2 linked regions of the Homo sapiens genome follow. The protein of the gene in region 1 interacts with the protein of each later gene in a pairwise test. Each region holds a gene or a part of one and is shown in the gene's direction. Other genes may lie near its edges.

Region 1 (3,753 bases):
TTTTGTGTTTTAAAGAATTCATATGGCTATTAAGCAAATCCTGGATATTGGACAAACAGCAATAAAGGTTTAGAAAAATGAAATTTCAGTTAAAAAAAATGTACTCCCCCACTCCCCAGGGAAGAAATCAAAGATTTTATATTAGAAACATGAATTTAGAATTCAGAACAAGTATTGCTTATGACATCAAATTTTATTGTGATGTATCAGGTGGAAATTTAGTCAACACTTTTCTTAAAGCAAAAGACTCAGGCTATGTGTATATTGAACGCTAGTAAATTCTAATTTCCCTTCTCCTTTTCCTTTTCCCCCACTTCCTCTCCCCTCTCCCTTCTTCCCATCTCTCTCTGTCTCCTTTTTGACCAGTAACATTTTAGAGTTGAAAGCTATGCTAAAGGTACCCATTTCTTTTCAGAATAATTTAACTTTTCTTAAGATTTTGTGAGCATCCATTCCTTATGTAAAGAGCATTTATTATGCCCAATGGAAGTGAGAGGGTTGTGGGACTACCCCTTAATGAGACCAGATCATTCCACAATTATCCACTTTAGATTAGTGGTTCACCAGGACTTGTTTACAGAGATAAGATTTCTGTTTGTAATTTTTGTTTTATGTACAAAATCCTATAATAAATAATTTATACCTTTATATGTACCAAGTTTATTTTGAAAAAAACTGGATACATTTATTGAACAGCTATTAAAATATGTACACTGACTTTCCCTAAAATTTCATATACATTTCAAAATCAGGGCTCTATTTTAAATATGTTTTAATGATACTGTGTGGTGTTTACTGGGTGAAGTTGATCCACCAAGGAGCTGAAATTAGTGCTCTAATTTTAAGCTTTATTTCTTAAGAAAAAATATCCATGACTTTATCACTACTGTGATCCCCATGGTATTAAAAAAAAAAACTGGTAAAATTAGGTGATGAGTTTGTAAATAATAAACTTCCTATCAAACCCATTCTTTTTTTTAATTTTTAATTTTTGTGGGTACACAATAGGCAAATTTATGGGCATATTGTATGTTTTGATACAGGCATACAATGCATGATAATCACATCAGGATAAATGAGGTATCCATCACCTCAACCATTTATTCTTTCTCTGTTACAAAGAATCCAATTATATTTGTTTAGTTATTTCATTTTATTAATTTATTTATTTATTTATTTATTTATTTATTTATTTATTTAGAGACAGGGTCTCACTCTATTACCCAGGCTGGAGCGCAGTGGCACAATCATGGCTCACTGCAGCCTTGACCTCTTGGGGGATCCTCCCACCTCAGACCCCCTTCCCCCCACCTCTACCCTCCTCCTCCACTGGCTGGGACTGCAGGCGCGTATACCACTACACCCAGTTATTTTTAAATTTTTCGTAGAGATGGGGGTCTCACTGTGTTACCCAAGCTGGTGTCAAACTCCTGGGCTCAAGCGACCCTCCTTCCTTAGCCTCCCAAAGTGCTGGGATTGTAGGCATGAGCCATTGCACCCGGCCACTTAGTTATTTTTAAATGTACAATAAATTATTGTTGACTATAGTCACTCTGTTGTGCTATCAAATACTAGATCTTATTCATTCTAATTACATGTTTGTACTCAAACACATTTTCTATCCTAAGTTGTACTGAAACTATTTCCACTGGATGTATTCCATACAAACTTTCTTTTGATTGGTTGTTTTCACTTGCTAGAGTTCTAGTAAAATGCTGAGGATAACTATTATATTTCTTTTCTTTTCTGTTTTCGTTTTTTTCTCTTTTTTTTCCCAGGCTGGATTGCAATGGCGTGATCTTGGCTCACTGCAACCTCTGCCTCCTGGGTTCGAGTGATTCTCCTGCGTCAGCTCCCAAGTAGCTGGGATTACAGGCACCCGCCACCATGCCTGGCTAATTTCTTTTGTAGTTTTAGTAGAGACCAGGTTTCACTGTGTTGGCCAGGCTGGTCTCGAACTCCTGTCCTCAAGTGATCCACCCGCCTCGGCCTCCAAAAGTGCTGGGATTACAAGCGTGAGCCACTGCGCCCGGCAGATAACTATTATATTTCTAATGAAGTTTATAAAAATATTGAACACTTGTAAAATTGAGTAACCTATAATCCATGACCGTGAATATACAATTTCTAATCAACTTAACTTTTGCTTGATTTAAAAACTTTTTTTAGGGATCCAGTATTTGTTTATAATAGTTTTATCAGATCTGTCTAGTTTTAGACTCTTAAATGCCCTATAAAAACCTAAAGCATACTCACTCAGTGGAATGTCCATAACATTTCTCTGAATACAAACACAGAGAATATTTGCTGTGGGCTCAGAGAAACAAGTTTCAGCATTTGATTCGGAAAAGCATTTTATGTTTTACTTGGTAGGAATAGGGATTATGCAGGAAAGAGTCAATATGTATTGAAATTTTTAAAGAGTTAATTCAATATAAATATAACGAAGCTATGATTTATTTGAAATTCTTAACCTCTCTTTCAGGGATTTATTGCATTTATTTATAATAGTTTCTCAGTCCTGTATTTTGGGAGGCTATAATAACATATAGGAGTACAGAACTTTTTTTTTTTTTTTTTTTTTTTTACTTTTGAGACTTTTAGGAGGAATAGAGGGGATTAATCTAGGGAATGGATCTGAAACAAAGCTAATAGACTTAGATTTAAACAATTTCAGTAATTAAAAGCACACTGAATCTAATGAGATCTGGCACTTGTTTATTCTGAAATGGATTACCCACTGCTTTTTTTTTTCTCTCCCCAACTTCTCATAGGAGCCCAGTTTCCTCCAATTGCAGCACAAGACCTTCCTTTTGTTCTAAAGGCTGGCTACCTTGAAAAACGCAGAAAAGGTAAACTGAAGGTTCTAATGAAAAATGTAAAAATAATTTCATCCTTAGATAGAACATGTTTGTAGTATACATGTGGAGGCAGTATTCGTTTTAGGTGATTAAAGAGTTTAAAGATTGTAAGAAAATCTGGATGACATTATCCAAACCACAAAATATAGCTCTTAGCTTTAAATAATTTTTAATAAGAAAACATTAGGTTAGGTTTTTAGTTGTCAACCTTGGTTATTTGTAAATGATTCAGGAGCTGTTTCCTGCCTCTCAAAGGAAAGCTGCAGGCCATGACTGTATTCTCAAAGGTGGGATTTCTCACCAGTATCTCAATGGGCTGAGCAGCAGGTTCTCCTATGCCCAAACTGGCATGCACCATGGTTCAGATCAAGCCTGGAGTTTTGTCTGCCATTGTCTATTATTCATTTCAGTGTTCCTCTCCATTGGCTATGATAATTGGGAGTTGACCATATGGTCTCACTCTTTCAACACCAATATTTAATGGAAATGAAATATGGAGGTGGTTTTATAATATGAGAAATGAAAAGCAGACAGTCTTTTCATTACCATTCTGCTTATCTCTCTTGTAGTCCCTTTAGGCCTTTCTATTTATATTTCATTTTGCTTTTCTTAGCTTTCTTAGCTGAATTTTAAAACTGAAAGAGATAACAGAAATAATCTAGGTTAGCTCCTCCCCTTCTTTTTATAACAGATGAGAAAATGAGACCCAGATGGATCAATTATCTCAAGACTGTATAGTCAGATACCTTTTTGACTGTCCCTGTCAGAAAACTTTGTTAGCCATGCTGTTGATCCCATAAGTATGGCAGCCCCATAGCTACTTTACTTTATTCCCTTTAGCTGTGTTGGTTTGTTGTTGTTTGGTTTTTTGTCTCTTGGAAAAGAAGATACA
Region 2 (3,753 bases), on another chromosome or scaffold:
AGTGGTTATAATACATGTTTGGTTGCAGCAAAAGAGACACAACATAACACTGATTTTTAAAAGTTAAATGTCTGTCCTCCTGTTCCCTTCTTTATAACCATCTAGCAAAATCCAGTGAAGATGGGGTTGTCTCCTGTGTTGGGGGCCAGGTCCTTCTATCTCCTGGCTCTGTCATGCCTAGAGTATTACCTTAGTCATCACTGGATCAGAAGAGCTCAGGCCCCCACAGCATCCCAGCCAGCTGGGAGGGGAAAGCATGATGGGGCCCTCTTTTAGGACACACCAAGAAGCTACATAGATCCCTTCTGCATAGATCCCATTGACTAAAACTTAACCACATGGCCAAATCTAATGTCAAGAGGGACTAGAAAATGCCTTATCCTGTGTAGCTGTGGGCCAGGTAAAAAGCCAGAGATCTCTTAGGATAGAATAAGCATCCTAAACTTTTGGCAAACTTTTTCTGCAGAGGACTAGATAGTAAATATTTCAGGCCATATACGGTCTCAGCCATGTCATCATCATTGTTGTCATCATCATTGTTACCATCATTGTCTTCTTTTGCTTCTTCTCCCTTTTCTTACAATTCTTAAAAAATGTAAATTCTTAGCCTGAGGTCTGTACAAAACATTCCACAGGCCAGATTTGGCATGCGGGCCATAGTTTGCTGACCCTACTACTCTATAAGAAGGGAAAATCATACGGGGAGGAAAGTGACCATCTCTGGCATAACGTCTGTAAGATTATAAGCCACTGAGTGGAAAATCCTTGTCTTCTCCATCTTTCTAGTCTTGGCCAGTGCTTGACCCACACAGTAAGTGTTTGATGTTTATGAATGAATGAGTAGAAGGAAGGTGGGGGAGGTTAATTTCACAATCACAATTTGTTAAAATCTCATTTAGTCCCAATGGTAGCCTCTGTTTTGGGGGGTTTCTTTTCTTTTCTTGTCTTTTCTTTTCTTTTTTTCTCTTTTCTTTTTTGAGTTTCTTTCTTTCTTTCCTTCTCTTTATTTTTCTTTCTTTCTTTCTTCTTTTTTTTTTTTCCTTCAGACAGGATCTTGCTCTGTTACCCAGGCTGGAGTGCAATGGTGGTGCAATCATAGCTCACTGAAGCCTTGAACTCCTGTGCTCAAGAAATCCTCCCACCTCAGCTTCCCAAATGTCTGGGGCTACAGGCATGCACCATCACACTTGGCTAATTTTTTTTTTATTTTTGTAGAGACAGGGTCTCACCATGTTGTCAAGACTGGTCTTGAACTCCTGGTCTCAAGCAATCCTCCTGCCTCAGCCTTCCAAAGTACCGGGATTACAGGCATGACCCACTACACTCAGCCCCACTGGTGGTCTTTTCACATGGATTATCATCTAAATACTCCATTTCTTCCAGCCTCAAGAATAGTCTAACAGAGAGCCGACAGAGTGAGTCTAGTGGGCTTTCCACACATGAGTGACCACTCTTCAGTTGATATGGTCAAGCACACCACTTTACCTCCTGACCTCAGGTGCAATTAGCTTCCAAATATTCCACATGCTCCAGTGGACCTTTCTAATTGTAAGCATCCCCCTTTGGCCCCCATTGCAGGTGACACTCCTGGGTGTGTGGAAAGATTATGGGTCCAAAGAACTTACAGCTTCTTCCTCTTGAATAAACATGGTGGCAGGCAGGAGAATCTTGTTTTGGTTTTACCCTTTTAAATATCACATGCTTGGTGGGAATGTTAGCAGAAGTATCCAGGCTGAACAGACACTTTTAAGTTCCCCTTTCTCCTCCTTATTACTCAATATCCTGAGGGCATAATAGAACTTTTCTTGTCTAAGTTTGCCTGGTCAGGGGAGGGAGGTGTGGCTCACTCAACCACTGACCGGGACAAAACCCTGCCAGGCATCAGAAAGCTCCGCAGTTCTTGAGTTCCACATGCAGAGCAGATGCGACAGCTAGAAGTGAGTAGGGCCCAGACCCTGGCCCAGGAAGATCCACTAAAGGAGGCCATCCTTCCGCCTTCTTCTGCAGGAGTCAGGTAACAGCTATGCCTAGGTTTCTTCTTTCAAATAAATGTGTAATTTTTTATAGCAGGAAAAAAGCACCACTTCCAAATTCTGGCAGCACAGACTGTGCTAGCTGAATAACTGAAGGAAACGCATGTTCTGTTGGAAAATAGCAAAAGAGATGAACAGGAGACACTAAAACTCAGCCTCATGGTAGCCAAAAGGATGATAAGCAGATAAAAATGTGGCCGGGAACGTGTCTGTCACTTGCTCTTTCGTAACTGGATAAGGCCTCTCATGTGTTCTTGTTGGAACCTCTGGTGCCACTAGCGTTAAATAACGTCTTGCAGTGAAACCAGAAACAAGGTTTTATTGCCAACAGAGCTGGGCACAGATGGTTTATTTCATCCTGGTTCCTAACAAATATGTGTCCATCCTTTTGATGAGAAAGAGTAACTTTCAATTTCCTCCAAACCTGGCAGGAGGTGAGGATTCACATGAGATTTCTACATAGACTAAAGAAAGGGACTATACTGCCATGAATTATGCCTTCTCAGAAGGAATCCTGGCAAACTGGATAAATGATGACAAACAGCTGCAGATCAGCCAAGGAGGCCTTTCAAAGCAACCAGCAACTCCAAATTTTCCTCGGAGCCTTTGGCTGTCTTGTATACATTGCTGATTCTTCTGAAAAATTCACAAGGTCTTTTCCCCCCATTTAACTTGATTTGCAGGGAAGTAATTAATAGAAATGGGCCTCTGACTCTGCCTTCTATTAGCTGTGTGACTTTGGGAGAGCCACTTAACCTCTCTGTGTCTCAGTTTTCTCATCTAAACATGGGGATAATAATAGAACTCATCTCATGGAGTTGTTGAGGGGATAAAACTATATACACTTTTTGAGTACTAATGTAAAATAATAATTAATATTCACCATTTTAAATATTTTTTCATTAAATACAAATAATTCTGCGTGGGAAACAGATGGGCTTATCACCGGAAGGGTGAAGTTGTGGCTGTGATTTTCTGCCCATGCTATGGGAATGCCACCGGAGGTTTTAGGTAGAGTAAAACGTCCCCATGCAATGTGAGATACACACACTTCAAATAGTCCGATACCTTAAGAAATTAATCATAAGTGATAGGTGAGGGGGAGGAGGATAAGGGTGCTCTTTCCAATAAAACCACATGTTTTATGATGTACCATTAAAGGCGATCCTGAATATCAAAGGCGTTATGGTGCACTTAAGGCACCCCGTGGAAAAGTTGACCATCCGTTTCAAAAAGGAAAGGCTAAAAAGGTTTCCATTTCCCTTGAGAAATTATTGTAAAGGTTGAAATCCACACTGCCTGACTGTCATGTCCATTATTTGTTTACTACCATTGGGCTTCAAATTCCCCCCAGCTTCTGCTGGAGTCCAGAGGCTTGGAAGCTCGCAGCAGCTGATTTCTGGTGCAATGCTGCACCTTGCCAAGTTACGGCTGCTTCATAGAGCAATCACACTGACATCTAGTGGTCTAAAGAGTAAGTGCAGGCGGTGGCTTTGAAGCTTTTACCAGCCTCAATGTGCTTTAAAAACCACATTTTCCACCATTTACACAATACGTTAACAAGAGAGAGAGATCAGGGATGTAGAAATGATATTTCATTTGTCTGAGGTGTTACTAGAGGCTGCTCTACAGGAACATTTCTAAAAACAAGAAAGTGAAGAGAGTGAACCGTGGCTCGCTGGCGGGTTTGGGCTGTGGTTCCAGGGGTTGCGGTTAAGAC

What was found.
Region 2: the proteins of SKAP2 (region 1) and FYB1 interact in a protein complementation assay, tested with the Homo sapiens proteins (one study listed by BioGRID).

What each region holds. Positions count from the first base shown.
Region 1 is NC_000007.14:26,738,986-26,742,738, reverse strand, and holds part of SKAP2 (src kinase-associated phosphoprotein 2), read left to right. Parts: intron 1-367; exon of another isoform or gene 368-397; intron 398-2,774; coding exon 2,775-2,852; intron 2,853-3,753. UniProt on the Homo sapiens protein: May be involved in B-cell and macrophage adhesion processes. In B-cells, may act by coupling the B-cell receptor (BCR) to integrin activation. May play a role in src signaling pathway.
Region 2 is NC_000005.10:39,217,704-39,221,456, reverse strand, and holds the start of FYB1 (FYN-binding protein 1), read left to right. Parts: upstream 1-1,893; 5' UTR 1,894-2,014; intron 2,015-3,753. UniProt on the Homo sapiens protein: Acts as an adapter protein of the FYN and LCP2 signaling cascades in T-cells. May play a role in linking T-cell signaling to remodeling of the actin cytoskeleton. Modulates the expression of IL2. Involved in platelet activation.